Linked DNA regions of Homo sapiens: regions 2, 3 and 4 are each linked to region 1. The links come from fine-mapping of genetic effects on gene expression. A gene starts in region 1. Each other region holds a variant in brackets. All regions are shown on one strand. Distances are between the middles of the regions.

Region 1 (8,113 bases):
TATCAGAGTTTACCCAAGGCTTAAACCATGACTTTATCTGAAATGACAAACCATTTTTCTTATTGGCTCTAAATATACTACAGGTTGAGCATCCCAAGTCTTAATATCTGAAACCTGAAATGCTCCAAAATCAAAATTTTTTAAGCTGGTGCTCGGATTTTGAAATTTGGGATGCTCAACCAGTAATAATGCAAATATTCCAAAATCAAAAACACTCCTGGTCGCAAGCATTTTGGATAAGGGATACTCAACCTGTATCCATATTCCTAGACTTGGTTAATGTCATTACTTACATACACACTATTCATTCATTCAACACGTTTGATGAGTGCTCACCACAGGCACTGTAGTTATTGGGGATCTAGCAACTGAACAAAACAGTGAATAAAATCGCCTGTCCTCAAGTAGCTTTCATTCTAATTGGGGGATAAAAAAAATAAAATAAAAAAAAAGTAAAACATATGGTATGTAGATCATGGTAAGTGCTTTGAAGAAAGGTAAGATTGGGAAAGGGGAAGATGGAGTTGAGGTGTAATTTTAAACAGAATAATTGGGGAAAGCCTCCTGAGAAGGTAACATTTGAGTAAAGACCTAAAGGAAGTGAGGGAGTGAGCCATGGAGATTATCTCTGAAACAGTACTCCACAAAGAAGAAACAAATACAAAGGCTCGAAGGTGGGAGCATTCCTGGTGGGTTCAAGGAGAGGGAAGAGAAATAGGGAGTGAGGTCCAAAAGCTACATGGAAACCAGATCGTATAAAGCCTTGTAGAACACTGTAAGATCACTTTGGCTTTTATCATGGTTGAAATGGGAAGATGCTGGAAGATTTTGAGCAAACATATGGCATGATCAGTTTGGGTACTGTGTGAAAAATAATGAAGGAGAACAGGATTGTAAAAGCAAAGAGACCAAATAGGTTACTGCAGAAATTCATGGTGGACAGGACCTCGGAATAGCAATGACAACAGTCAGATCCTGGATGTATTTTCAGAGTAGAACTGACAAGATTTACTGAAAGATCTTACATGAGACATGAAAGAGACAAGTCAAGAAAACTTCAAGGTTTTTGACCTGAACAACTAAAAGGACGGAACTGCCATTAACTGATATGGAGTAGACTGAGTTCAGATGGGACGGCCAGACTAGGGATATAAACCTGGGAATCATCAACATACAGATAATACTGAAAGCTAAGGCGCTAGATGAGAACACTAATGGGACCCTGCAATGTTGAGAAGCTGGGAAGATGTGCAAGAACCTGTAACGAAGACGCATTCAATGAAGAACAACAGTAACACGGAGCAGGAGGCAACTGATTCTACCTATTGAACTGAAGGTATGGATAGAGGGGACAGTGAACCAGGAAGAAAGGAGATGGCTTGTGGGATGACCTTCAAAAGATCAATAAAGATTTTTCAGGAGACCAATAAAGATTTTTCAGGCAGGCAAAGCAAGAAACAGGCACGTTAGTTTACCTCTATCTTACTTTCCTCACCTGTAAAATGGAGATAATACATAATCACCTAATGCAATGCCTAACAATAGTAAATGCTCAATAAATGCCAACTATTATCTCATCCACCCAAATATTCTAGTATCTAGAATATTTAAGGACTGTGAGTTATCTCCCAAAACATTCTCCATAGGCATGAGGGAAATAGCTAATTCTGCATTATAATATATATACAAGGATTTACCTTCCTCTGAAAATAAGGCAGAATTCAATGACAGTAAAAATTTGATAAAAAATAGATCTAGCACTACCTAGTAATTCTGTAAAATCTTACTATGTTTATTTCTGCAGAAATACAAACGATTAGATTTTAATGATCTACAAAATTTCTGCATACAAGTTTACGGCCACGCAAATTTATTTTTCAAAAAGCTCTCTTGTATTGGTACAGTTTTACTGACACGTTATTTTAATATGTAGTATAGTCATCAGAAACACAGTATTAAAACAAATGGAGCTTCCATTTGTTTAAACATATACAACGAATGGCAGGTATGCCCCAAATCTTATTTGAACTTCCCTATATTTAGTTATGCCTGACTTCACCTGATAGGTTATACTAAATTATTTACTGGGAAAAGCAGAACGCAACTCAGTATCTTTTGTGTGTCATTACTAAATTGAAGTCTATCACTTTTTCTTTAAATGCCAAAGGAAGGAATCAAGTACAGCCCAAATCCCTTCTGTAGGTCATATGAATTATAAATTTATTTTCCTATTCATATTTATATCCAACAGAGCATAATTTCAGGAAACAGAATTCCAAGTATGCACATTCTTGATGCCTTATTTCTATTAGCTCCTCAGAATAAATTGCTTGAAAACTTTTAAGACAACTAGTTAACAAGTATAAACCTTTAGTTTGTAGCTAACAGGTATAAACCAAGTTGTCATGAGAAGTTTTCAAGTAAGGCAAAACTAATTTCTAAGACGGAAAAAAACCCAAAACTCAAGAGAAGAATATGTGCCTTTTTACATTTCTCTGCATAAATAGAAGCTATATAAACATGCTCTATTGAAGATAAAATATTATTTTAAAACAATGTGTCAAACAATTAAAATGAGAAAGCTATTAATTCATTTGTTTTGCCATTCTTCAATGCCTTCCAGCAAGCTGAAGGAGAAAATGTTTATCACCAGGCATTTTTCTGCAGGTACCCCCAAAAGACTGGTCCGAAGTAGAGAAGTGGCGCAAAGCAAGCCGCTGTGAAAATACCTAAATTCTCTGAGTGTCAGAAAATGGGAGTTCTCTTAAAAATCAAAACCAGGAGAACTGAACCACGCACAGAAACTCGGAGACCTCATAGGTGGCAACATAGATAAGAAGCTATCAGCTGCTAGATCTTGTTGTGATGGCCTTCTGATGCCCACTAGGAAGGAGACAAGAGCAGGGCCGTAGCAATCCGCCCACCGCTGAAGCTCCTTCTCCTGCACCACAGGAGGAACCGAGTCCTCAAGCTAATGGCAACTTCTCCCCAAAAACTCAAAGGGGAGGGGCTCTTGATGTTCTAGGGACTGGATTAAACTCCTGGAGATCGGTCTCTGAGCTGCACGCACCAGAGGAGAAGGATGTCGTCGGGGCAGTCACGAAGCTTCAAGGAGAAGAGAATAAGTCAGTACCTGTCTGCCTTTCCCGAATACTGGCTGCTGCTGCTGCTGTCGCTGCCGCCGCCGCCGCCATCTTGGCTCCCACGAGCCACTGCCCGGCTGGGGAGCGGAGCGGGGGGATGACGTGGCTGCCCTTACCGCCCCGGAAGCAAAGCCCGGAAGGGCGGGGCCAAAGGGTGTGCCTGAGTTCCGGACCCCACCTCCTCCAGGAAGACCTCCACTCTCGGTAGAACTGGGAGACCCGGTGCAGGTTAATTCAGTGGCCCGTAATGTTAGGCGAATACTAAGAGTTTTTATCCTACCGAATCAAGCCACACTCTCTCAAATGGTAGCAACATTAAATTGAGCTGTTAGGGTAGGAGCGTGTAGTGCTAAGAACCTAATTACTGAACTGTTGGTTTGGTGACTTACAGAGCACTTAAAGGGTGATAATGCTCTAGGAGTATAAGGACCACAGGACTGAAGTAAATGAAGCTCCTGAAACACAGGCAACATTTTAACGTTAGCTCTCGTTTCTCAGTGCAGCAGGAGTCTTCCCTTTGCTCCTTTCTCCAGAGAAACGGAAAGCATTGGAGCATTACTCTGATCTGGCATATTTCTCAGTCGCATCTCTTTAAAAAAAAAGGTGTAGCTTTATGGTGGCGTTCTGCCGGCATGGACACGGGATCCAGGGAGGTACAAAATGAGAAATTAGCATTTCTCCTCTTTCCTTGTAGTAATTGCAAAATCACCTTGCCGTGGGAAGGAAGTCAAGCAGTAGTGGGGTGTGTTGCCTAGGCTGGAGCGCGCAATCAGGGATCACTGCAGCCTCAAATTCTGACGGTCAAACGATCCTCCTGCTTCAGTCTCCCAAGTAGCTAGGGACTACAGGGGCACACCATCAGGCCAGGCTGATGTGCTGGTTTTTGTTGTTGTTTTGTTTTTGAGATAGTATCTCACTGTCTGTCGCTCAGGCTGGAGTGCAGTGGCAGAATCTCGGCTCACTGTAGTCTCGACCTCCCGGACTCAAGCGATCCTCCCAAACTATCCTTCCACCTCAGACTGCCCACTAGTTGGGACTATAGGCAGGGGTCACCACGCCCGGCTAAATTTTTTTTTTTTTTTTTTGTAGAGACGGGGATTCACCATGTTGGCCAGGCTGGTCTTGTGCTGGCGGTTTAATGTACACTTGAAGCCACGTGACCGCAAAATATATGGGATAGATGATTTCTAACTTAATCCATAGATTTTACTGTATGACCAAAATGGATACACAATGACACCTCATTTCCCGAGTTCATTGATGACGCTTCATTATGAAGTTGCACCAAATTCTGAAATGAAATCACTCTGTACCTCAAAAGCTTAACTTTCACAATTATATAAATGAAATGGTTAGCCTAACGATTATATATTGTTTTATAGTGTGAAACACTGGCTTTTTTCATTAATAAAAATTTATTTTTGTGACATTTAAAACAGGTTATCTTATTACATAATCTCTGCCGGGTGCGGTGGCTCACGCCTGTAATCCCAGCACTTTGGGAGGTAGAGGTGGGCAGATCACCTGACGTCAGTAGTTCGAGACCAGCCTGGCCAACATGGTGAAACCCGGTCTCTACTAAAAATACAAAATTAGCCGGGTGTGGTGGTGGGCGCCTTTAATCCCAGCTACTGGGGAGGCTGAGGCAGGAAGAACTGCTTGAACCTGGGAGGCGGAGGATGCAGTGAGCAGAGATCGCGCCACTGCACTCCAGCCTGGGTGACTGAGTGAGATTCTGTCTCAAAAAAGAAAAAAAAATTATGTAATCTCATTTTTATAGCTAATTGGCACATTCATTAAGAAATTAACTGGAATACATGTGTGTCTTCAGTACTATTACTAATATTTTGAAGGAATCTTCAATGATCTAGGTGTGTTCCAACTAAACAAATTATTTCTGCCCTATGGGAAAGTTCTACTGCATTCTACAGTCTCTATGAAATATAAAATGTCTGAGAGCCCAATTTTGCTCATTTGGGTACTTCCACTTTCAAATGCAAATCCATCATTGAGCCACTTCAGTTCCATCACAGATTCTCTCCCAAGACTATGAGTCATGTTAAAACCACGAAGACAATTTTAAAATTGATGTACACTGCATATATATGAAATGATAAAAACTCCTGACCAAGTGCACAGAATGTGGGCAATAAATTTATAGAAAAATACACCTCACAGAAGAACAGCAACCATAGACAAATAGCCCTTGTAAGGCTGAGACTGAATAAGGTATTTGTTTTATTAGAATCAGAAAGACTGAAAATAATCTATGGCTACAGATTGTTCATTAACCTAATTTACTATAGCCATTTATCTGAGTCCAGATTTTTGGCTTAAATAATTTATTCTGGTAAGCTATTTTACATTAGAGGATACATAGTTTTAACACAGATTCCCTCATTTCTATAGGTTCCTGGGTGTCAGACACTAACTGCTTGCTTATAGGATCTCTCAAATGTGGAGAGTAAAGGAATCTTGTATCTTTCAGTTTCGTCAGAATCTTAATCTTATTAAATCCCAAAAAATTACTTAGTTTAAATAGGCAGTTTACCTTTAGTGGCATAAACACATTTATTTATTTATAAAACATTGTTATAAATGTCACGCTTTTTGGTTAATCTGGCAGTCTTTAAAAGGGGGGGAAATAGGCTGACATATAAACGATCACCTAGCATAATACCTGGCATAGTGTAGGTACTGGGATATGTTTATGAATTAGAAGAGATAATGGTCAAAATCAGAACTTGAAAACTGAGTCTCTTCAAGACAATCCAAATTTTCCTAAACCACAGATAATATACATTCAAGTAATTCATCATTAAATGGGTTATGTTTTGTATTGCATTACTTGAAGCATGAAACTTTGTATTGCATTACTTGAACCATAAAAACTAGTTTAATAGCTTATTTTAAAGTAACAATGCAGTACATGATAATCACTATATAAAAGAATTACATGTTTATAATGTAATGATTTTGTTCTGATCATTTTCTTATAATGACTGAATGCTAAAGGCACAGTCACTGAAAAAACTTACCTAATATACTCCCCTTGACTTAGTATTTAGCACTGAATACAAAAGTTCCAATAGCTTCCATATAATTAGGGGAAAAATTTACAAATGCATAAAATAGAAACCAAGGTGAATTCTCATGCTGGTAATCAATCAAAGGCTTTTTACTTAACCCAAACAAAAAAAGTCACTTCCTCAAATTACAGAAACTAAAAATTACAAAGTATAAAATTGTAAGTTTCTGGTGAGATATTTTAAAGAATATCTTGAATAGTAGAGAATTGTATAAAAGGTGTTAAAGTTTCCATATTGGAAAGTGTTTAAAAACAATGAATATCAAACTAACCAAAACCATTAACAGTAGATGCATTATAGATCAATTTATAGTTTTCCTCAACATTAAGAGCAAGAGAAAACAGCCTTAAAATATACAACATTTAGGCAATTGCAATATTTAAGAAATATATGTACACATTTATAAAGATTTATAGCATAATTCTTTTTTAAAATCTAATGTAAGAATTATGCACTGGTTATAAAATTAATAAGAAAAGAACAATTATAATACCAACCATTTGACAAAATGACACTGCAGAAAATAAATAACCTACAGGTTTCTCTGATATTCCTTGACCATACAGATTAATCTAAAAATGGTAATAATGGAACATCCTTCAAACTAGAAAACATTTTGCAAAATAAATATTTATGCTTCACTTTAAAACATGAATATCCTAAATTATTTACACCATCTTATCACTAAGGCCCTGTCTATATATAAAATAAGTCAAATGAGGAATTGAAATACTGTTTTTAATTGTAGCTAACCCAAGTACACTGCCTCTCCACCTGCCACCCCCACCCCAACAAAGTATGTGTGTGTGACTTAATCAGCTTTAATTTCTACCCTAGGGGAAATTAATTGCAACTAAAAACCAGAAAATAGCTTTAACTAGGTTTTATTGGTTTGTATTGGTTTTTAGCTGTAATAAAAATAAGGTGGATAAAGAAACAAATATCTTTTTATCAACATATTTGGAATAAAAACTGTATGGTGACTTTGGGGTTTATATTAGCTATTCAAACTCTTTGATAATTGATCTTTCAATTACTATTGGTGAGACAAAAAAATTCAACCAAAGCCAAAGAAATGTCTTGTTTAATGTTCTTAAATATTTCAAGTTAAAGTAAAACAAATTTGCTAGGTATGTTAGTGTACAGATTGAAAAAGACATGAGGGAACAAAGAAAAGTACACTAGAATTATGTTTTAGTTTTCCTTTGGTATTAAGAGATATATTATCTCTTTCAAATCTATTCTGTTACTTAAAAAATATCAATAATGTAATGATTTTTCTTAAGAAGGGTGAGAATACAACAGCTGACACCTGCTTTGTGTATTAAGAAAAATATGGTTAAAACATTTTACTTCCCATAATGATTTACTTTCATGGAAAACTGAACCATTATATCATTTAAATATGTTAATAGATTAAGGACATCAGACTTTGTTTTCCAATTTTTTCTTCTGTGGGAGTATAAATATGGGGACATGACTATGGGACTATATATTTTCACATTGTTAGCACTTTGTTAGTACAGTTACTTTTAGGTATTGTCTTTTAGTAGCATTATTAAAGTTAAAAAATAAAGGAAACAGAAGTAAAGAGTTTATAGAAGGATACACAGAAATACGGTACTTATCTCTGAGTGGTGACATTAGAATGGGTTTTTCATTCTATCCTTTTTACTTTATTTATACATTGCTTATATAACAGATATCATTCAAGAGCAATGAAGATAACTGTATAATGCTATGGCGTCAACTTACCTTAGCATACAACCAACTTGATAATAAATAATGGTCAAATGGCCAAACCTACCAATCCACAGAGATCATTCAAATATCTAAAATGATTATGGATCAGACATACAGAATACCAAACATAGGATACAA
Region 2 (8,113 bases), 79 kb before region 1:
AGACATTTTATGCCAGTCAGTATTCTTTCATAATGATTCTTATTTTAAATGCTTTGTAACTGGGAAAAAAAGAGTACCTAAAGAAAATTTTATAAGGGAAAAAAATGTAAATCACTAAGATGTGGTAGTAGAAATGCTAAAAATATTCAATTTCAATCTTGACAAAATGTGCCAACAATACCCTTAGAGAAATCCCAAACAAAAATTTCAGTCTTGTTCAGAAAGGATGATGTGAATCAGCAGTGGATTAGAATTTCTGCATTAACAACAACAACAAAAAATAGTTTTTCACTAGAAACAATATCTAAACAACAAAGAAGGGTTAAATAAATAACAGTATATTTATATGATTTAATATTAGGCAAACAGTAAATACTTCCATGAACTGGCATGATGAAAGTTATTAAGAACTAGAATACAAAACTGTATCTCTAAAAATGATTTCCCAGTTTTAAAAAATATCTGGCTGGGTGCAGTGGTGCACACCTGTAGTCCTAGCTACTAAGGAGGCTGAAATGGAAGGATCATGAGCCCAGGACTGTGAGGTTACAGTGAGCTATGATTGTATCACTGCACTCCAGCCTGAGTGGCAGAGCAAGACCTTGTCTCTAGAAAAAAAATCTGTCATATGTATAAACAATGAAAGAATATACACTAATGTTTACTTGTAGTGCAGACATGATGCCACAATGAGAAAATTCCACACTGACCTCTTGTCAGGTTGCAGTCCAAATGCACAACTTAAGAATATTGATAAAATTACCTTTAGGCTATGCATATGAGACAATAATTGATTTTTTGTTTAGACTTGGGTCCCATCCCCAAGATATCTCATTATTTATATATATATATATATATATATATATATATATATATATATATATATATATATGCAAATATTCCCAAATCTGAAAAAATCAAAAATCCAAAACACTTCTGGTTCCAAGCATTTTGGATAAGGGGGATTCAACCTGTATTATAAAAATTGGGAAAGACAGTTTTCAGTTTTCCTTTTAAACAAAGGTTTGTTGTGTATTTTTTTTTCTTATTACAAGAACACAGACAAAAGTAAGTTTCAAAAGTCAAAAGTATAGATAATAAAAAGCACTCATAATCTCAGCACTCAAGAGATAACTACTGTTAACAACTTGGTGTAATTCTCTTGTTATGCTTTTTTTTAATGTAATTGTGATCAGAAAGCCTATTTAATCCTTTAGTCTTAAAAAATTAATTATTTTAAAAACTATTTTGAAGGTAATAGTTTTTGTAGAAAATTTGAAAAATAAAGAAAAGCACCCAAAAGGAAAAAAAATTCTACTATTTGGAATTATCTACTATTAACATTTAGTTGTATGCCATTTCAACTCTGTAATTACATGTTTTTATGTGTATGCTTATATGAACACATACATATGGATGAAAAAATGGATAAACAGGGATCATAACTGTAAAAAATGTCATTTAAGTTTTGGCTCAAATGTGACTGCCTACTAGATGCTTTCCCTGATCTCCTAAGCAAATTTAGCTATCACCCCCAGCAGGTTAAAATCTTACCACTTAGTTTTATTTCTTATGTCATTTAACATGGTTTAACATTATTCTGTTCATTTATTTGCTTATTTGTTAATTGTTTCCTCAACACAAATGTGAATTCACTGACAGTTGGGGCCTTGTTTATCATGCTCGCTATTAGGAAATATTTATTAAACAAATCAATGAAGAGTGTTATAATTTTTTTTTTTTTTACTTTGCAATATAACGTGAGCATTTCTCAATGTCATTAAGTAAGCCTTCTGATTTTTAATGACTTGACTGTATTTATCTTGCAGAAATACCACAATATACTTACTAACACTACTGCTAGACATTTAGGTTGCTTTTAAAAATTTCATTATTACAATTGTGTCTAAAGTCTTAGCTCCAATTACTTCTTTGGGATAAATCCTTAAGAGAAGTACTAGGTCAGAGCTATTTTTAAAGAACTCTTTATACCATCCAGAAAAATTTTGACAATTTATATTCCTAATAGCAGAGTATAAAATGCACAAGTGAATTTTCCTGTATCCTTGGCATGGTATTTTCTAAACATTTGCATTATGTTAATTTGCATTTCTTTGATTACTAGTCAAATTAAAATTTCCTCTTAATGCCTTGGAGACATTTGACTCCAGACATTTCGGTCTTTGACTTTCTCACCTTATCAGTAAAGAAACTATAAAGCTTGCCCAGGAAAGAAAGGCATCACTGTTTTATGTAATTTTAAGTTGTAAACAGGGTGGGCCAGATAAGGAAATATTTATGCCACTGGATATATAAAACCACCAAGGCATTGTTCAGTTTTCTTATTAGCATTCCCATTTTCTTGGGAATGAAGCCTCAATTGTACTCTTTTAAATGACAGGAATTAAAGAAGAAAATAAAACTTACTTCCACTGTTTGATATATTGTAAAGGATTAAGGTTGCATCCTGCATCAGTTAAAGCTTTTTTATATTGCTCCAAATCAGCCTGAAATAAGAAAAGAACTATATGACAAAAAATTTTACTTTCAAGAAAGATGTTATTTGTTGCCATTTGATTAATTAAAAAGTAAGACCAAAGGCATGAGTTTAAATTCTTGGCACCCAAGTAGAGTGGAGTCACGTCTTAAGTGAGTACCCAAGTGAGCACCCAAGACAAGAAAATCACATATAATGAAAATTACCTTTAAGAGGCTCCCAAATCACCTATAAAAGTACAGTATTTTTAAATTTCTCAGCAAGTCCAACAAAGCTATTTTTTCCTTTACTGCTGGGATAGACTGCTTTTCTTCAGGACACACACTAAATGAATGATTTGGTTTGACCAAGAATATTTCTAAACCAGAAACACAAGAGGAATGACACCAACTGAGGGGAGCTGCAGATTTCGGTTTCTCATCTCATTTTCATTCTAGGGGTCCAGATTCATTAACTGGACAACAGGTGTCCCGCACTTTTAAATTTTTTTTTTTTCACTCTTCCTTACTCATTTTCTGATAAGTCTGGCTGAATTTGTGTAACTTAAAGGAGCCTATCTTAACGATCACTTAAATTTATGAAAAGACATAATCCTTACCAAAAGTAAATAAAAATAATGTGGTTAAATTAAGGGAACACTGAATTAAGTTTTAAAATCACATATTCTTAAGAAAAATATTTTAATTAGGCTATTAGAAT[A/C]CCCTGAGATATATAGGTAAACCCCTGTTGATGAGAGAGATACTTTTTTTTTTTGAGATGGAGTTCCACTCTTGTCCAGGCTGGAGTGCAGTGGAGCAATCTTGGCTCACTGCAACCTCTGCCTCCCAGGTTCAAGGCATTCTCCTGCCTCAGCCTCCCGAGTAGCTGAGATTACAGATGTGCACCACCACGCCCAGCTAATTTTTGTATTTTTAGTAGAGATGGGGTTTCACCATGTTGGCCAGGCTGGTCTCAAACTCCTGACCTCAGGTGATCTTCCCACCTTGGCCTGAAAGAGATACTTACAAAAAGAAAACCACACTTTCTTAAAAAATTAGAAGTAAAGCTTTGTGTTCCCAGGGTAAAGCAGAATGGCTGAGAGCAAATATCAGGTTTAGTTTTGCTGTCTTAATATGCCAAAGATTTTTGACCAACAGAAACCCTATCAATTTACCAGATACTAACAACAGCAACAACAAAAAATTGCTACCAGCAAAGGAATGGAGCTTAGAACAGCCACATTCTAAATGTCATCTTGAGGTTCTTATGCTTCTTGCTCATCCAGTAAAAGTATACAGTTAACATTAAAGTCAACAGTCTCTAACCCAGAAGAAGTCTGATACCAAAATCACCACTTTCTTTTACAGAATAGACAACGTATTTTCTACATTGGACATTAGTTTTAAAACAATCTTAAAATAAGGTCAACCTTTCAAAAAGCATAGCAAATCTGATTAACTTAGTTTAGAATAGTTATTTTCCAAAAATAAGAATGTTGGCCACTGAAATTCAGTTTACATTCCAACAACTTAAAAGTAGTCAGATGTTTCACGGGTAGTTTCCCCTGGTAACAATAAAAGTTGCTATAAAACACAGCAGTACATAGAAGCAGCCTTAACAAATTGTTTTTCTTTTTTTTCTTTTATTTTATTTGAGATGGAGTATTGCTCTGTCACCCAGGCTAGAGTGCAGTGGCATGATCTTGGCTCACTGCAACCTCTGCCTCCCAGGTTCAAGCGATTCTCCTGCCTCAGCCTCCCCAGCAGCTGGGATTACAGGCGCACGCCACCACACTTGGCTAATTTTTGTATTTTTAGTAGAGACGGGGTTTTGTCATGTTGCCCAGACTGGTCTCAAACTCCTGCGCTCAAAGTGATCTGCCTGCCTCGGCCTCCCAAAGTGTTGGGATTACAGGTGTGAGTCACCACGCCTGGCCATTTTTCTTTTAAAGAAAGAAATGAAGCAGATATTTAGCCACAGTGATTTTTACTTCTGTTTTAAAATCTGAATTGTAGTAGTCTACAAACAAGCATTCCCCTTCCTCCCAATAACTGAATAAAGGACATACCTCAGAAGGTGCTTGCTGTGTGCTTATATAATAGATAAGAAACAACCTCATTTTATCTTCTGGAGTTCCTGCTGCATAGGGGAAAAGAGGTTAAAAAATATTTTCATAATTGTGGTTATTATGTATTATAGTCAACACAAGTATGTTACATTTCAAGGCATATATAAATGTGACAAAACAAAACATGGCTCTTGATTTAACTAAGGTAACAGGCATATAATTATAACCATGTAAAATACAAATATGGAAAAGATTAAATGAGGTGGGATTAGAGGGCTGTGATTATGAGAGCATCTCTATTGTATCTTCCAAATTGTGTATAATGTTGAGATTTCCCTTTTAGATATAAACTCACAATGAAAGGAAAGGATATAAGCAGGGTAACCATACAATTCTGAAACAGGATACTTTTGAGGTGGCAAAAGGGGTGCCAGTAACAATTACATAAGGACAACTGGTATGAAAGTGGGACTATCCTGGGAAACCAGATGTATGGTCACCCTAGGAATTGGGTTATGAGACTTTGCTGGCTAAACAAAATCATCTAGCTGAGCCTAAAGCCATACTTCTCAAATTGGGGGGCCCCTAAATACACATGTTTCTGAAGGCTTTTATATTACTATAAGAATGGGAAAACAATATATTTTTATTAAAAAAATTGTTATATCACATAGAATATATTTGCCTCAAATTTTAAGACAAAACATAAGACTTCAAAGTAATGTCTTGCTTGCAGTGCTCTGAGTTACTACTCTTAGTACCCAAAGCCCAAGACTGTCCAGAGAAACTCATTTATTGTCTGTTCTTCTATCATGTATGTGCACTTTGGTGGAAAGGTGATAAAGCATTGTTCTCGACAAATAACAATATTCAGTCTCACTTTAAAGTGCATCCTAAGATGCAAGAACTCAGAATTGTTGTATTTTATGATAGAATAAAAACTAGCTGATTTTCTTCAAAACATAATGACTGATAAGACACTTATTTTTTATATGATTTGGAACACTAACGCTCATTCTCTAATTATCCGTACTCCCTGAAGATGACAAAGAATGGTAAAATAAAGATAATGGTAAGTTCTCTAAAGTTCTCATGTTTACAAATAAATATTGTATTTGGGGCATTTGGAATATTAGGTTATGAGACTCCAGGTCCTGTTAAATCCTAGGACAATACTGATATTTTTGTTTTAACAGGTAATTAGCCTGATTCAGTACAGGCTAATGTTCCTACCAGCCTTCCGTAGGTTATTCTTCCATCATCGATTCTATTTTCAAAACCTCTTGAAGTGCTATTGAGATCTGTCCCATGAACCAGTGGTCAGTCTGGGGACTGGGAGGTCGTCTTCTAGCTCTTCCCCTCTCAGTCTTTGAAATGCTGTTTAGGATCAGCTTCATAGATGTGCAGTTCAGGGGTGAACCCAGGAATTCATGAACAACTTTATGAGGTTACTTTCCTGAGCTCCTTCCTCTCCACAATCTCCCTGGTACTTTCCCATTTCCTTGGCCTTCCCTTTTTGGTGCCCCAGCTAGAAAGCTTTGGCTTTGGTCACCCTGCTTCACTGAGCACTTCCTGCCGTAACTGCCGCAACTATGATCAACCAGCTAGAGGACAAAGGGCAAAAGAGTAATGAGGCTTGTCCTACCCGCTTGGGACCACAGATCCTAATATACAAGAGGAAGGTTCCCCTCCCTCCGAGTTTTAGGGCCTGTGGGTCCCCGAGTTTGCTTCCAGCATCTTCAGCATCTAGCACAGCCTTTTCTAATAGTAGATACTTACTTTGCTTAAAGAAAGAACAGCTCCCACTCTTCTTCAAGAGGAAACATACTTTAAAACTGCTACAGTGTTAATAACTGCCTTAGAACATCTGCTAAGGTTTTAAAGACCAATCTGATGCTAAGGGCTGGGGAGCATACTGATGGTTATAATGACATAACCACAGGGAAACCAAACTGAAATTGTCAGCATGTGTCCTTTACAACTATGATTATTCTAAAGCCTGTAGCTACAGCTTGGAACCTCTTGTCACACGCACCTCTCTCCTTTGACTGCTGCTTTAAAGTTAGAATTCCCTTACTGAGTAATCTGATGTATTTTAGAGAAAAATTTTAAGTACAGTTTGGAGAGCTTTTGTTCTCCCTGAAATTTTGAGAGTAAGATGCTGACCTGCTGTCCCATTACCCCCAAATGTCAAAGACATTCTCTAACACAGCCTCAGTAAAACAATTAGCAAAATGTGATATTAACACTGGCACCATTACAGCGATGTGATATACTACATGACACATTCACTATCATTTAATTCTCAGATCCTAGTTGAAGTTTTACCAATTATGTCTACAGTATATTTAATGGAAAAAGGATCAATTTCAGAATCATGTGCCACATACAGTTGTCATGCCTCTTTAGTCTTCTTCTGTATGAAACAGTTCCTCCATTTTTCCTTGACTTGCATGGCCTTGGTTACTTTTTAAGACTATAGGCTGGTTTCTTCCTAGAATATCACACAATTAAGTTTTGTCTAATATTTCCTCATGATTAGATTTAGGTTATACCGAGGCAAGAATATCACAACAGTGATGCTGTGTTCTTTGCACTGAATCCTACTAGCCCTTTACCTCTCAGCCTTTCCTGAGCTCCTTCCTCTCCACAATCTGCTTAGTACTTTCCCACTATTTTATGTCTCTCTACTGACGACGTTCACTGTGGTTACCTAATAAGGTATTTATCAGGCTTCTCCACCGCACCGTTACTTTTTCTTACAGTTAATAAGTATTTTGTGGGGAGGTATTCTGAAACTGCATAAATATCCTATGAAATTTCAATTTATTCATTTATTATGTCCACATGGACTCTTGGCATCCTCTTTTATCAGTGGGTTATAATCTGTTATTATTTATTTTGATGCTCAAATTGTCATCATCTGGAGCCTATTCAAGCTGACTTCTGGGTTCTTTTGACAAGTTCCATCATTTTTGGAGTAGCTTCCTTGCCTTCTGACACAACAAAAATGTTCCAGACTCATTTTGTACTTTTGCTCCCTGCCCCACCTCTGGAATCAGCTACCTCTCCAAGGAGTCCTAGTGGAAACTGTATTTATAAGGCAGCATCTTTACTAGTTGGGCATTGCTGCTCCCAGGCCCTTTCAGTTGGCAGAGTTACGGAATACATGAGTATACACCGCCCCCCCCAACATACAATCTATATTTATTTCTGTATCTGAACAGATATATAGCGAAAACACTAAGTTCACACCAACACCTCTAATTCCAATCCAACACTACAGGGTTCATTCTAATTTTTTCCCTTTCTATATTTATAAATTCCTCCTCTGACAATGGGAAATTGGGCTTTCTTTATATTATCCAATATATTTATTTAGCCAGTCCCCTGTATATAACAAATATCCCATCTCTGCTTCCATGGGCTTGCTGCATGGATGCCCTTCTTACTTCACTTGAGCTCTGATTTCCTGCAGTGGACCCATCCACATACCTAGACATACGTCTCACCTCACCTAGGCCCAAGCTGGTTTGTTCCTGTGCAGGGGTCACCCTCCTCAATCTGTT
Region 3 (8,113 bases), 48 kb before region 1:
AGTAGAGCTGAAATCTGAAGTTACATCGAAGTATGGTAGAATGAGCAGCATTGGAACATACATCTCTAAAATGATGCTACATTATATATTTTTTCAAATCATATATTATTTTTTCTCTTCTCAATATTTAGATTTCTTTTTGATCACTTACGCAAGTTGAAAATATTTTTGTTATAAAAGCATTAAATGGCCTTCAATTTTTATAAGGAAAAAAACCCAAATCTCTTTATCTAACAGATAATCCTCCTCTTTCCTATAATTCTTAGAAAGCAAATAGAATCTTACCATAATGCTTTTAAGTCGTTTGACCTCATCTTCCTGTGCTCTGTAAGATTCTAGTTCTTGCTGAACTGATTCTGCAACTTCTGGGAATGGACTAAAACAGTATTGCACAAGAACTATGAGGATGACATTAAAAGACCAATTTTTGTGTAAATTCTAAAATATATACAATGAACATTTATTATTTTAAATATACTTATTTGGATTTGAATATATGTTATATATAACAAAGGCAGAAAAGATTCAGCACAAATACAACTACATATCTTTCTGATATCTATATAATACTATTTCTTTAAAATGCATATAATATACATCTAAAATTTAAATTTCATTTCTATTTTTCATTAACAGTATCATACATTCTCTTCACTTATACGTTTTTAGAAGAAAAAGTAAAATATTTACATGACTGAAAATCAATGGAAGACAAGTCATGTTATATCAAATATCAATTAAATATTCCCATCCAAATTAACACGTCATGTCAAAGGGTCCATGCAACTACAAAGACAGCATTTAAAAATATCACCTGCAAGTAACTGTGAAAAAATTCTTGTAACTCAGAACTCATAATATCCCAGAACACTACTGGTAAAAATAGCACTTGGGCCACAGTTTTGGTGGCCTAATACCTGATGTCTTCTACCAGGACATTGTGGTTTAGCAGTAACTTACATAGACTTTAGGCAGAAGTGATCTGCAATCATGAGCACTCAGGTAGAAAACACTGTACTAATCTTGACAAACTCTAGGTGAATACATGTTGATCATTAAATGTTTCTTAAAATGAGTATTTTTCATCTACAGCCTAGGGGGAGGCCAGAAGCCTTTTCTCCTTTAAGAAAGAAAAGGTCATGTCTCATTAACAGTGAACAAAAACCTTTCCCCCCTTCCTCAGCTCTGACATCTGAAAATACCTCTCTAATAACAAGCACATTTTATCCAATGGAGACTAGCAGAAAAGACAGGAGCTCAGAAAGGATTCTGAGGAACACAGTCCAATTTTACCTCACAAGCACAGGCATTTACTCCAGCTCCAGTTGAGTCTATGTTGGCAAAAAATAGCACTGAGGCCTCAGCATTGCACTGGGGAGTCAGAAACCCTTGTTCCATCTAATTATAATGGAAACTTCCTTTACAGGCAAGCTCTTACCCTCTCAGGGCCCTAGCTTTATCTGTAAAATGTGTGGGTTGAACTGGATAATCCTCAAAATCTCTGATATCTTTAGGTCTCAGAGTTAACAGAGAATAATTGCTCACATTTATTAAGTGATTTTACTATACATCAAACACCATGCTAAGAATTTATCTTTTCTTTCTTTTTTTTTTTTTTAAGATGGAGTTTTGCTCTTGTTGCCCAGGCTGGAGTGCAATGGCGTGATCTCGGCTCACTGCAACCTCATTTAATCCTGATGAATCTGTTGAGGTAACTATCATAACTTAACTATTCAATGTTAAGACTGGGTGCTTTATGGTCTGCAAGACCTGGGTTTCATCCCTGGCTTTACCAACGAAAGCTGGATGACTTGGGCAAATTACTCCTTTAAATTCATTATCTCAATCTTCTCAACAACCTTCTGAAATAGGGCAATAGGTAGAATTATTATCTCCCTATTTTACTGATGAGGAAACTGAAGCTCAGAGAGGTTTAGGTCACTTGTTTATGCTATCTCCAAGTGTCTTTGTGCCCATGTTACTATTGTATGTAAGATGCAGAGCAAAAGAGCTATTCCTACTTAATGAATAGGAGGTTAAAATTCTTACTATTCAACTGACCTCTTAAATTGTTCTTAAACATATGTTCTAAAAAAATTCAAAATTTCCATATTTGAATACAGAGATTTTTTTCTTAAGCTTTTCTCTATTAGGGAATGCCAACTTCAAAATATTCTGTATTCTCTATAAATAATGCCTCTCTAATAAAAGTAATTTCTTGTACTTCACCATTCTGGAGGGAAACGTAGATTATGGAATTCCAAAGGGAAGAGTATTATTTAAAATCAAATTTATTAAAATTAATTAAAATAGTACCTAAAACTGCCATAGTGAGAAAGAGAAAGACAGTGACTTTTCTCTGCAGAGAAAGTCAAATCTTTGTTATGGCGATTTGATTTTCCAGCTTAAAAAAAAGTTGTAAGTAAAAAAAAGATAAAGCATATTAAAAACCCAGCATGTTGAACCAAGTCTATATTCGACTTCTCTTTAAACAATAAATATAAGCCCAAAAAGAACAGCTATATCAAGGACACACACACATTTTGAAATATTTTTTAAAAATCATATTTTCATAATTGTTGATGAACAGTATTCTTTTTCTCTGAGGAATAATATTTTTGTTTGTTTAGAATGATGGCTCTAGCCATAATGATCACTAGATAACTTTTATAGCAGTAACTGAGCCCATGAAGTACCCTAAACTTTAAGGGGGCATAGCATCACATGGGATATGTATATCTGCCCACAGTAAATCACATGGCAAATTAATGCAGTTTTATCACTCATTATTTCTAATGTACTTTGAATAAATTTCTAGGCTTTTAGGCTTAGGTACTCTCTCCACAAGTATCTAAAACAAGGTTTACATGAGGGCAACATGTAACAAAAAGGAAAAAATCACCCCCAAAATCACAAAAGCCAATTTAAATGAAAGGCAGAGATGGTCTTATAGAGTCAGTGGAGACAGCAACAAAATTGAAAAAGACTATCTGTATAGGATGATCTCATTGAAAGGAGAAGCGGTCCCTATAAAACAACAATGAACAAAAAACAACTTAGGAATCAGTGAGAAATGGAGAAATAAAGACAAATATCTACAGACTATCTAATTACAGCCCCCACTCATTGGGTGAACGAACCTACATGACCCTTTTTTTTCTCAAATTCATTAAGGTGGATGACACCTTAATTTCTCTTTAAAAAAATGAATCTTTTACTTATTGATATTTTGCTTACCTTCCTTTATGTTTTTGCCAAAATTTATCAACCGGAGTTAAATCATAAGACTTCTTGTTTTTTCTCTTTGGTCTAGCACCAGCTGGAGAGTTTTCCACTCCTGAAGATTCTTCCAAATTAACCCTGTTTAAATGGAAATCCTAGGAAAAAGTAATCTTGTGTTAAACAACTGTTTTCTAAGTCTAATAAAAATAGAATCTTGTTGCCCTTTCTAATGTTTCCAAGGACAAAATATAGATCTGAAATTTAAAA[C/G]ATCTCCTCCCAATCTTTTGTTACATACAAATGTAATTTTGTTTCTGTATTTTAATGAAAGTATTAGATGTATATTAAAATTTCAAACAAGAAAAAGAGAAAAACATGTCAATATGCTTGTGTATCCTTCTAGAAAAACATTGATGCATATAATAGCACATACACATCCTCTTAATTTTATTTTTTAAAATGGGATTACAGGGTACATGTTATATCTTTTTTCATCTAATAATACATTTTACAGCTCTTTCTGTATCTGTATATGTACATTTACTTCATCTTTATCATAACTACACAGTAGTCCAATGTTTGGCTAAATCAACTTATGCAACCAGGCCTCCTGATGCTTGGTCATTTCCAGTAACAAATGTTATCTTAAATATTTTTAAACTCTTAGAGAGTCAACATTCTGATGTGTCACTTGAGTGATGAACTGCAATTTTAAAAATTACAATAGATGCTATAATAATAAGTGATGCCCCTCTTTCACACAAACTTTAAGAGTCAGGCCAGTAGTGGCTAAACTTTCTTGCCTAGGACTAATTTTATTCACGTGAGGCTTGATTTTTGTACCTTTTCTGTAAAAAAAACCAAAAAACCCCCCAAAACCCAAAACCAAACCAAACCAAACCCACAAAAACCATTAGGCAAAAATAAAAGTAAGTATCTTTTTTCTTTCCCCCAACTTCTTGCATTACATCTATGGGTTCCCTCACAAATAGCAGCATTTTATGGTTTAATGCCAACTAAAGAATAGTGAAAGATAAAACATGACTATCAACAAGTAAATGATTGATGAAGAAGGAAGACACAGTATGGAGAAATTATCCAGCATGACTGAAATATAATTATCTTAGTTCTAAGGTATCTGTATATATTTTGAATTAATGATTATTCTAGGTCTTAGCAAATTAAATATACTGAATGCAATTCAGTCTCCTTTAGATAAAACAAGGTTATCAATACTGACTCTAGGTCCTTAACATAAACCTTGTAACTTTCTCAAATAAATCTTTTATAATAGTTTATTTCCTTGCCATTTTTCTCTTTGACATAAAAAGCAGGATTTGAAAAATTACAGATGTCTACATACCCAGTAATGGGATTGCTGGGTCAAATGGTATTTCTAGTTCTAGATCCTTAAGGAATCACCACACTGTCTTCCACAATGGTTGAACTAGTCTACACTCCCACCAACAGTGTAAAAGCGTTCCTATTTCTCCACAGCCTCTCCAGCACCTGTTGTTTCCTGAATTTTTACTGATCACCATTTTAACTGGTGTGAGATGGTATCTCATTGTGGTTTTCATTTGCATTTCTCTGATGACCAGTGACGATGAGCATTTTTTCATGTGTCTTTTGGCTGCATAAATGTCTTCTTTTGAAAAGTGTCTGTTCATATCCTTCGCTCACTTTTTGATGGGGTTGTTTGATTTTTTTCTTGTAAATTTGTTTACGTTCTTTGTAGATTCTGGTTATTAGCCCTTTGTCAGATGGGTAGATTGTAAAAATTTTCTCCCATTCTGTAGGCCGCCTGTTCACTCCGATGGTAGTTTCTTTTGCTGTGCAGAAGCTCTTTAGTTTAATTAGATCCCATTTGTCTATTTTGGCTTTTGTTGCCATTGCTTTTGGTGTTTTAGTCATGAAGTCCTTGCCCATGCCTATGTCCTGAATGGTATTGCCTAGGTTTTCTTCTAGGGTTTTTATGGTTTTAGGTCTAACATTTAAGTCTTTAATCCATCTTGAATTAATTTTTGTATAAGGTTTAAGGAAGTGATCCAGTTTCAGCTTTCTACATATGGCTAGCCAGTTTTCCCAGCACCATTTATTAAATAGGGAACCCATTCCCCATTTCTTGTTTTTGTCAGGTTTGTCAAAGATCAGATGGTTGCAGATGTGTGGTGTTATTTCTGAGGCCTCTGTTCTGTTCCACTGGTCTATATCTCTGTTTTGGTACCAGTACCATGCTGTTTTCGTTACTGTAGCCTTGTAGTATAGTTTGAAGTCAGGTAGTGTGATGCCTCCAGCTTTGTTCTTTTTGCTTAGGATTGACTTGGCAATGCGGGCTCTTTTTTGGTTCCATATGAACTTTAGTTTTTTTCCAATTCTGTGAAGAAAGTCATTGGTAGCTTGATGGGGATGGCATTGAATCTATAAATTACCTTGGGCAGTATGGCCGTTTTCACGATATTGATTCTTCCTATCCATGAGCATGGAATGTTCTTCCATTTGTTTGTGTCCTCTTTTATTTCGTTGAGCAGTGGTTTGTAGTTCTCCTTGAAGAGGTCCTTCACATCCCTTGTAAGTTGAATTCCTAGGTATTTTATTCTCTTTGTAGCAATTGTGAATGGGAGTTCACTCAGGATTTGGCTCTTTGTCTGTTATTTGCGTATAAGAATGCTTGTGATTTTTGCACATTGATTTTGTATCCTGAGACTTTGCTGAAGTTGCTTATCAGCTTAAGGAGATTCTGGGCTGAGACAATAGGGTTTTCTAAATATACAATCATGTCATCTACCAACAGGGACAATTTGACTTCCTCTTTTCCTAATTGAATACCCTTTATTTCTTTCTCTTGCCTGACTGCCCTGGCCAGAACTTCCAACACTATGTTGAATAAGAGTGGTGAGAGAGGGCATCCCTGTCTTGTGCCAGTTTTCAAAGGGAATGCTTCCAGTTTTTGCCCATTCAGTATGATATTGGCTGTAGGTTTGTCATAAATAGGTCTTATTATTTTGAGATACGTTCCATCAATACCTAATTTATTGAGAGGTTTTAGCATGAAGGGCTGTTGAATTTTGTCGAAGGCCTCTTCTGCATCTATTGAGATAATCATGTGGTTTTTGTCTTTGGTTCTGTTTATATGATGGATTATGTTTATTGATTTGCATATGTTGAACCAGCCTTGCATCCCAGGGATGAAGCCAACTTGTTTGTGGTGGATAAGCTTTTTGATGTACTGTTGGATTTGCTTTGCCAGTATTTTATTGAGGATTTTCGCATTGATGTTCATCAGGGATATTGGTCTAAAATTCTCGTTTTTTGTTGTGTCTCTGCCAGGCTTTGGTATCAGGATGATGCTGGCCTCATAAAATGAGTTAGGGAGGATTCCCTCTTCTTCTATTGACTGGAATAGTTTCAGAAGGAATGGTACCAGCTTCTCTTTGTATCTCTGGTAGAATTCAGCTGTGAATTCACCTGGTCCTGGACTTTTTTTTTGGGTTGGTAGGCTATTGATTACTGCCTCAATTTCAGAGCCTGTTATTGGTCTATTCAGCAATTCAAATTCTTCCCAGTTTAGTCTTGGGAGGGTATATGTGTCCAGGAATTTATCCATTTCTTCTAGATTTTCTAGTTTATTTGCATAGAGGTGTTTATAGTATTCTCTGATGGTAGTTTGTATTTCTGTGGGATCAGTGATGATATCCCCTTTATCATTTTTTATTGCGTCTATTTGATTCTTCTCTCTTTTCTTCTTTATTAGTCTTGCTAGCAGTCTATCAATTTTGTTGATCTTTTCAAAAAACCAGCTCCTGGATTCATTGATTTTTTTGAAGGGTTTTTTGTGTCTCTATCTCCTTCATTTCTGCTCTGATCTTAGTTATTTCTTGCCTTCCGCTAGCTTTTGAATGTGTTTGCTCTTGCTTCTCTAGTTCTTTTAACTGTGATGTTAGGGTGTCAGTTTTAGGTCTTTCCCGCTTTCTCTTGTGGGCATTTAGTGCTATAAATTTCCCTCTACACACTGCTTTAAATGTGTCCCAGAGATTCTGGTATGTTGTGTCTTTGTTCTCATTGGTTTCAAAGAACATCTTTATTTCTGCCTTCGTTATTTACCCATTAGTCATTCAGAAGCAGGTTGTTCAGTTTCCAGGTAGTTGTGCGGTTTTGAGTAAGTTTCTTAATCCTGAGTTCTAGTTTGATTGCACTGTGGTCTGAGAGACAGTTTGTTGTGATTTCTGTTCTTTTACATTTGCTGAGGAGTGCTTTACTACCAACTATGTGGTCAGTTTTGGAATAAGTGTGATGTGGTGTTGAGAAGAATGTATATTCTGTTGATTTGGGGTGGAGAGTTCTGTAGATGTCTATTAGTGCAGAGCTCAGTTCAATTCCTGGATATCCTTGTTAACCTTCTGTCTCGTTGATCTGTCTAATATTGACAGTGGGGTGTTAAAGTCTCCCATTATTATTGTGTGGGAGTCTAAGTCTCTTTGTAGGTCTCTAAGGACTTGTTTTGTGAATCTGGGATTTGTTTTATGAATCTTGTTTTGCTCCTGTATTAGGTGCATATATATTTACAATAGTTAGCTCTTCTTGTTGAATTGATCCCTTTACCATTATGTAATGGCCTTCTTTGTCTCTTTTGATCTTTGTTGGTTTAAAGTCTCTTTTATCATAGACTAGGATTGCAACCCCTGCTTTTTTTTGCTTTCCATTTGCTTGGTAGATCTTCCTCCATCCCTTTATTTTGAGCCTTTGTGTGTCTCTGCACATGTGATGGGTCTCCTGAATACAGCACACTGATGGGTCTTGACTCTTTATCCAATTTGCCAGTCTGTGTCTTTTAATTGGGGTATTTAGCCCATTTATGTTTAAGGTTAATATTATTATGTGTGAATTTGATCCT
Region 4 (8,113 bases), 32 kb after region 1:
CCAGCATAAATATGTAAATGAAACTTAGGAATTAAAATCTAGTTTATTCATTGTGAAATCAAACAAAATCCTTAGGTAAAAACAACAAAATTCTTTAAGTATAAATATACATTAAAAAGTTTCATCTGAAGTATTTATTGAATGTTAATTGTATACTTAAATAGGGTGAATTTTGTATGTAAAATCTGCTTCAAATTAAGTGCTTTAAAGCTGTTTTAAAAGTAACAAGTAGTAAGAGGTAATATACACGTCAATTCTTTCTAATTTAAAATTTAAATCAGCAAGCCATAATTTTATATCAATCAGAGAAAGCTTACAAAATATGTATCTTACCTGTAAACAGTCTCTATGAAACCAAGCGTTCTTACAACAAGGACTTCGTAATATGTTATAACTTGGAATAGGCTCAATAAATTCCAAGCAAATGGTGCATGGTAAGGACTCTCTATAATTATTAGATGTAATTATTTGAACAGGTCGATGGTCCCAACAAAATGACCTAAAAATGTAAATTATTTTAAAAAAATCTCATGAACTGCAAAGCAAAACTTGGAAAACACTGTAATTCACATATATAAAATGAAATTCATTTGTGTCTGTCTCATAATTCACCTACAACAGACTGGAGCCTTGGCACTAAAAATTAAGTCTCACAATCTATGACCAAGGAGAGAGCTGGACCTTCGAAATCTGAACTTTTCTGGTAGTGAGACTTACTTATACAGAATTTCAGAAACTAATAATTATGTTGAGAATCCTGTGTAATATTGTCAGCAATACAGTATATACATTATTGTATTCAACAAATGGGTGCATACGTTGTGCTCAAAATCGTATAAAATTAAGGGAGGCAGGAACTTACGCCTAAAAAATAGTTTAGTCATATAACACATAAAATGCAATTAATAACCTATTCCCAATTCACTTTATTTCCATTTGTATTTTCTAAACTGTAGTTTTCTTACATGATAACAATCCATTAAATAGGTCAAAAACACAACTACTAAAAGAAATGGAATACTTATGATACCAAAAGTCAAAATTCATAAAACCTTGATGTTTAAAGTTGTACTCAGGAAGCAAATATTTTCAGGGGTATCCTAGGGCATAATATTTACTTTGTGTACTCAATCAAATTTACATGCCTTTGATTTACTCGAAATGCATACAGCCCTGTGAAGAATAAGTCTACAATAATTCTAAAGAGTGACACAGAAATCTAGAATTATGTAAAGGTGGAGATTTTCACTGAATTATGGATAAATTAACAATTTCATGTTATATCCAAAAGCTGAAAATTGAAAATGAAAGCTAATCATTAGGTCCATCCTAGACATGGTAATTCTCAAGACTTGGCACATAGAAATGACCCCATAAGGGTGGGCGGGAGGGTAATACATATAATGTTATATCTAAACTCTGATGCTCTAAACAGAAAATTTATTGTAGTATTATATCATTGGGATATGTATTTTCCACTATTCTTTAACACTGAACTTTCATATTTAACAGTTAAATAACTCACGCAAAATTGCCAGTAAACTGGAAAATACATTCTCTCTGAAGTCCACATGGGAAATGATAACTTCGTTTACATCGGGGTGCAACACATCCAATTGAAGCACCATTTTTCTTGCAAACACAGCATTTCTAGAAGAGTATGTGAAAATAGGGGTCACAACATAAAAAATCTGAGTATTATAATATGATCAAGACATAAATAAATACTCCTGGTGGGGAATCTGAAAATTATTTCATCATGTAACAGCTGTGGTAAGGGTATATTAAATAAATTTCCTGAAAAACTGTTCTACCCAGAAACAATCTAAAGACACCAAAGATTCACTCCTATAACAATTTCGATAAAGAAAACATCTCTAGCCTAACATGTGGATAAGACAGAGAAGCCCCTTTTCCTTCCTACTAAAATATTTTAAACTGAAGGGTTTATAAACATAAAAGCTATATACATAAACACCTCATTGAAATCTCAAGAGAAAGCACATAAATTAGGCAACACTCACCAAGAAGAATAGGAAAATACTATAAACCAATTTGTAAAAAAGGCTAAGATCACTCTATTCTGACCAAATGAAAAAGTGTTGAGACACCTACAGTGGATTTAGAGTGGTCTCCAAAAAGTTATGCTCAGGTCCCGACTCCCAGTACCTGTGAATGTGAACTTACTTGGAAATACGGTCTTTGCAGATGTAATTAAGTTAAGGATCTTGAGATCATCCTGGATTTAGGGTAGTCCTTAAATCAAATAACTGAGGTCTTTACAAGAGAAAGGAGAGGGAGATTTAAGACACAGGCATATACAGAGAAAGGCCTGTGAAGATAGAAACAGATTGGAGTTATGCTGCCACAAGCCAAGGTACTCCAAAGGTTGCCAGCAGCCATGTGAAGCTAGGGGAGAAGCATGGAATCAATTCTCCCTTAGTGCCTCTAGAAGGAACCCTTTTGACACTTTGATTTACAATTCTGGCCTCCAGAATGGTGAGAGAATAAATTTGTTTTAAGCAGCCAATTTGCTATGGCAGCCCTAGGAAATGAATATACTACCAGTGCCGCTAACTGAAATGTAACAGTGGTACATAAATAGAAAAATTATTAAATGAATCAATCATTAGCAAAATACAGAACAGTACCTAAAACACCTTGGAACCCTTAAGACGGCAATTAAAATGGTCACTGATTCAGGGATTACAGAGTTACTGCTGACCCCTTTGAGCACCACCTAGGTCACTGGAGAATACCTGCCAACCCGAAACTCTCCCAATGAACTGACAACAAGGAATTCTAGTTTGAGTTCACAAATGAGACTCTTCTTTTCAAGGGTTCACAATATACTTGGAGAGGATTCGGATGTTTTAAGAAAATAAGTACAGGTTGAATATCCCTTAATCCAAAAATCTAAAATCCAAAATGCTTCAAAATAGGAAACTTTCTGAGTGCCAACATGATGCTCAAAGGAAATGCTCATTGGAACATTTTGGGTTTTGGATTTTCAGATTAGAGGTGCTCAACTGGTAAGCAAATATTCCTAAATCTGAAAAAAATTTCAAATCTAAAATTCTGGTTCCAAGCATTTTGGATAAGGGATATTCAATCTGTAGTTCCAAACCATAAGGGGACCTTTAGAGACCACCTTTTACCACAAGCTCACTATCACCAGGAAGTTTAGGAATTATGATACTAATATCTCA[C/T]GTTTAACATCTCACGTAGTCCTTAGATTCATGCTCACCTTTCTCCCACGGTTCTTCCTTGTGCCCTAGAACCTCTGTTTTTACCATTAACTCTCCTACCTTCTTGATATCTTCAAAAATAATTGCCTCCACTTCTTTGCCTCAACTAAAAGAATAAATGTTTCTTATGTGCTTCCCTTGTAGACCTTCTTGAATAAAGCTGCTTATTTTTCCATCCTCCTTAATTTCCAGACTTGACATGGGGTGGGACATGGACAGGGGCAGGAAAGGGGACAAAGAGAACATTATTTTAGTTCTCTGTTGAATATTATAGGCCACTACTTGATTTTCACACTTTGAAAAATTTGGACCTTTGAGCCTAATGACATTTACCCTTCTGTTATCTGCTAACTTCCTAGTCACTCCTCCACCTCAAGACTTTGGCATCTGTGGAAAACAAAGTCTAAACAACTTCAGCATTTATGGGATAATCTTTCTTTGACTTCTTCAACTATAATGTGTCAGTGTCCTTCATTTCCCCTCCAGTGTAATGATGAATCCCTTCATCACCCAAAATGCTCCCCCATGAAAATCATTAATGCCAGTATCACATTCTCTAAACAGAACTCCCTGTACTTCAAATCTTCTCATTCTTTCTCATTATTTTTACTTAGACAATATGGAGACGTTTCCCTGCATACAGCATAGTGGCTGTTATATAGAAGATGCACAAATGATAACTGAATGAGCAAGGAGTTAAAGTTTAGAATGCCTATCCTAGAGAATAGAAAAGGGTACTGAATATAATCACACAATGTTAGAGAAGGGTCAGGAGATATGGAGATCATGAATTGCCAGTCTGGAAAGCTGTGTAATTTCTAACTCAACCCAACATTCCAATCTCAGAAACTGAGGTATAAGAATAAAAAAGTATATGGTTGGGTTGACTCAGGATCAAAGGTTTAGAGAACAGCAGAGTGGAGTTATGATCATAATTCTGATGGTCAGAGAAGATTGACCATCAGATCATAATTCTGATGGTCAATTCTGATGGACATGTTGGAATAAGATAAGGAAGTGAAGTCAGTATTGTCACATGTATTATCCAGGGTCAATTAAGCTTTCTTTAATGGGCAAAAATATAAACTGTCCTCCTAAAACTTACCATATTTAAATGACAAAATATGCATTGAAACCTATAATCAAAGTCATAAATTTCTAGTACAGAAACTGATAGAAAAGACTTCCCAAGTATTGACAATATTTATGACATTACTTAATAGTAAAATAATTTACTTACCAGTTTAGAAGCTCTATTCACTTCCTTCCTGATATCTTCTATTAGAAAACCATAAACTCCTTCTTCTTCTTTGCCTCTCTGCCAAATTCCACTTGACATCAACTATGAATATATTCTCAATTAGAAAATAAACTCTAAGAAACTAGTTGGGCATTAAAAAAATATATATCCATACTATTCAGTCTAATAAAAAACAGACATAAAATGGCTCAAATTTCAAGTAGTTATCTATAGTAGTTATTTTTCATGGTCAAAGTAAGAGGCTACTTACATTGTTTGATTTAGATGGCACTGTATATTATCAGTTTGTATATCCTAATTAGTTTCTAAAAGTATTCCAGGAAGTAACAGAAAAAGAAAGAAAAAGAAAAGATAGGAAAGAAGGCAGTGAGTGGTTAGGTGGGTTAGAGGAAGAAAAAAAGAAAGAAAGAACACCTACAATTAAGCTTAACAAAAAGGAGTGGTGAATACAGATGGAGACAATTCAGATTAATTCAGTGACATTTCAGGCTAACTCTAAATCTAGCTGAATTCTGAATCATTAAGGCATTATTTACAAGAAAACCTATTGAACCCTAGTTAACATAAATGTTTGATTTTAGAAAGTTTCCTTAACCCCCAATGTGACAGTAATAAATGTTTGACTTTTTAAAAATTTGACTTAAGCTTCATTGTTTATACATGTTAAGAAAGCCTGAATCAGAGAAAGTGTAGAATGTGAATAAGAAATCCTGGCTTGCAAGCCAGGCTCTGCTGAAACTTCTGGAACCCTAGGCAAGTATTAATGTCTCAAACCTTAAACATGAAAATAAAAACACTGGATTAGACTATATCTAAGTCTCTTTCCGCTCTAGCATTCTATTGCCATTTGTAACATCACTATACTTTTCTGTTCATAATGAAATAGAATATTAAAAGGGTTAAGTCTGGGGTCAGTACTTTTTTTTTAAAGTATTATATTCATTGAATAAGACAGAACATAAGAGAAATTTTGATCTGATCAACTTAAATGTATTACATAATTTGAAAACACCATGTAGAGCAAATTTGTGATTAGAATTTTAACCAGTATATCGTAAAGAAAAACAAGTGATAACAAGTGATACACACTAAGAATTTGTTATGAAAACATAACCTGCAGACACATAAAATGGCTCTCCTAATTCTACTGCATAAAAAGTAAAATAATACTTTTTATTTTACTTTTTATAGAAAAAAATAAAATAATCCTTTTACTTTATAGAAAAGTAAAATAATCCTTTCCTGACTGAAAAAAAAGTAAAATAAACTTACAAAAATGGAAAGATTTTCTTTTTACTGCAAAACATAATCGTCTGTAACTTATAAACATATTTGGAATGACAACTTCATGTTCTCTTATAAATAAGCTCCCAGGCCAGTCTACTACTCTATTTAACCTTTGAGGTACGGAGGCACAAGACTGTAGTCTTAGAGGACCAAGGAATACTTCAGGTGGTTTCTCAAAGAAGCACTGAAATAATTTTAACATGGATGGTGGTAGATTTGAAAATATGTCCACAATTTGTTGATACTTCAAGAAGTGGGGCTTAATTCCTCTTGAGTGTGGGCTACTAGACTTAATGATTTGTTTCTAACAGAATAAAGCAAAAGTGACATTAGTGTGTGGCTGTGATGACTAGGTCATATGGTTCCATCTTGATTTCTCTCTCTCTGTCTCTCTCATCACTTGCTTTGGGAGAAGCCAGATGCCATGCCACGAGTAGCCTTATTTACTAAGAGGCCCAGGAGGTAAGGAGCTGAGGTTTCCTGACGCTAGCTAGGAGAAATTGAGGCCAAAAGCCACATGACAGAGCCATCAGAGGTGAATGGATCCTGCAACCTAGTAAAGTCTTCAGCTGTAATCTGACATCTCAATGATAATATCATGAGACTCTGAGCCTGAACTATCCAGCTCAGCCAAATTCCTGACCCTCAGATACTATGTGAGATGACAAACGTTTTATCTGCTAAATTTCAGAATAATTTTTTAAGCAGCAGATAACTATATAGTATCAAGAAACACTGTATGTACTAATGCAAGCCTGGCATGCTAAGGTGGTAATGTGCCACTAATATCTTAAGGCATGAATTCAGTGAGGTGAGAAATTGGTGGAGGGGAGGGGGAACAAAGGGAGACTAATTCTGAGTATGAAATCACTCGTTTGCTTTCTTCTGAGTGATACATAAAGTAACTGGTTTCCTTTTCCAAAAATATTTATCACCTTTAGCCAAGACGTTTCTTTTCAGGTTCTGTGTGAAATAAAATACTTTTATTCCACTCCCTGAACCCTCAAACAAATCTTTTCTCAGATTTATCACTAGCAACAAATGAAATAAGAAAGTGGTAAAAGAAATACCTCCTTTATAGACCTAATCATTTTTTCCTTTTTTCACTTAGGCCTTAAACAGAAAGAAAGAAAAACAAACAAACAAACAAACACGAAATAATGATAGGTCTTTGTATGTACTAAGTAACTTCAGAATCTTAGAATTCAATATCAAAAAACAAAATGTCTATTTTTAGAGATAGACAAAATGAGATCTGGAGAAGTTAAATGACTTATCCAATTCTCAGAAATCAGTGTCAGAATCTTACTATCTTCTTTAGAACACCAAATTTCTAGAATTTAATTATAAATTATACTCACCAAACAGTAGTAATGTACAGTGAGATTCCATTTCTCCTTAGTTTTCTTTTCTCCGTATTTATTAGGACAGTCATCATGTTTTCGACAGAAAACACAAGCTAACAGTGAAAAAGTAAATAGATATAAAAATATATTTAAATATTTCAAAAAAACCCTATGGAATTGGTGCTTCTCTAAATTTCTGTGTTAAATTCTTTCTGAGAGCAAATCATATAATATTGATATCAGTAACTTAAAATTTCCAATACCTACTTCTGAAACATTAATGTAACTTTATGTTCTTCACCAGTCTTTAATGATGAATTTCACTGTGTAGTTAAAATGGCAATTTATGAAGTAACGTCACTGAAAATGACACACTGGGGAACTACAAAACTCTGATTAAACTGCCAAAAACTGTTAGAATTAATTTTTAGAAGCTGTACAATCTAAATAAAAACTTACAAAAATTAGGAGAATGCTTAATGAAGAAACAAACTACTAATTTTGATGAGAACATCTTAACTTACCCACCTACCATTCCCCACTGCCCAGCTGGGCAGTGGTCTTGGGGTGGCCCGTGTTCCTGGTGCAGATTACTGGTCCAAGAGGGGGTAAAATGGACCTTGTTCTTTAAAAAATGTGATTGTTTTGACCTGTATGATGGCTCCCTGAGGGATGAGCTCAGATGCTTGCCTTTCTTTCACCTGCCTCAGAACTTTCTCAGGGCTGGAGCCTCTGCTGTTTGTCAAAAAACATTTGAAACAAATATACTAGCTGTAGCAGCCTAGGACAAGGGATAACAGATAGGGAAAGCAGCAGATAGACTGAAAGGCATAGGAAAGAAGAAACTGGGAAAAGAGGGTACATGAGGGAATAAAAATTTGGAAAACCTTCTGCATAATAACTGGAGAATCTAGAAGTCCACATGCATGCCCAGAGATGTACACATACTCAGAAATGACCCAAGAAATCCT

Which allele goes with the higher level. Alleles are on the strand shown, and positions count from the first base shown. SD is a standard deviation of normalised expression in the study named. Not every link is listed here.
With allele C in place of G in region 3, the expression in whole blood of the gene that starts at base 3,214 in region 1 is higher (moderate effect, 0.42 SD a copy in GTEx).
For the expression in CD4 T cells of the gene that starts at base 3,214 in region 1, allele C in region 4 goes with a higher level than allele T (moderate effect, 0.54 SD a copy in CEDAR).

Evidence for each region. PIP is the estimated chance that this variant, and not a neighbour inherited with it, causes the effect. A credible set is the group of variants that fine-mapping cannot tell apart.
Region 2: its variant is the best candidate, but not a certain one, in a credible set for the expression of SCFD1 in whole blood (INTERVAL, PIP 0.52).
Region 3: its variant is the best candidate, but not a certain one, in a credible set for the expression of SCFD1 in whole blood (GTEx, PIP 0.55).
Region 4: its variant is the best candidate, but not a certain one, in a credible set for the expression of SCFD1 in CD4 T cells (CEDAR, PIP 0.57).

What each region holds. Positions count from the first base shown.
Region 1 is chr14:30,617,420-30,625,532 of GRCh38, reverse strand. It overlaps SCFD1 (sec1 family domain containing 1), which reads right to left and starts at 3,214. Exons shown (of 25, transcript NM_016106.4): 1 at 3,134-3,214. The coding sequence starts at 3,194. G2E3 (G2/M-phase specific E3 ubiquitin protein ligase) reads right to left here. Exons shown (of 15, transcript NM_017769.5): 15 at 5,469-8,113. RefSeq lists enhancers at 2,932-3,611, 2,681-3,880.
Region 2 is chr14:30,696,690-30,704,802 of GRCh38, reverse strand. It overlaps SCFD1 (sec1 family domain containing 1), which reads right to left. Exons shown (of 25, transcript NM_016106.4): 16 at 4,545-4,615; 17 at 2,428-2,507. Among named protein-coding and RNA genes, the nearest start is that of SCFD1, 78 kb to the right of the region's middle. The variant A/C (reference allele first, on the strand shown) is at 3,197.
Region 3 is chr14:30,665,520-30,673,632 of GRCh38, reverse strand. SCFD1 (sec1 family domain containing 1) reads right to left here. Exons shown (of 25, transcript NM_016106.4): 11 at 3,238-3,377; 12 at 286-376. Among named protein-coding and RNA genes, the nearest start is that of SCFD1, 47 kb to the right of the region's middle. The variant C/G (reference allele first, on the strand shown) is at 3,490.
Region 4 is chr14:30,585,860-30,593,972 of GRCh38, reverse strand. It overlaps G2E3 (G2/M-phase specific E3 ubiquitin protein ligase), which reads right to left. Exons shown (of 15, transcript NM_017769.5): 3 at 7,158-7,255; 4 at 4,489-4,590; 5 at 1,526-1,650; 6 at 334-499. Among named protein-coding and RNA genes, the nearest start is that of G2E3-AS1, 13 kb to the right of the region's middle. The variant C/T (reference allele first, on the strand shown) is at 3,210.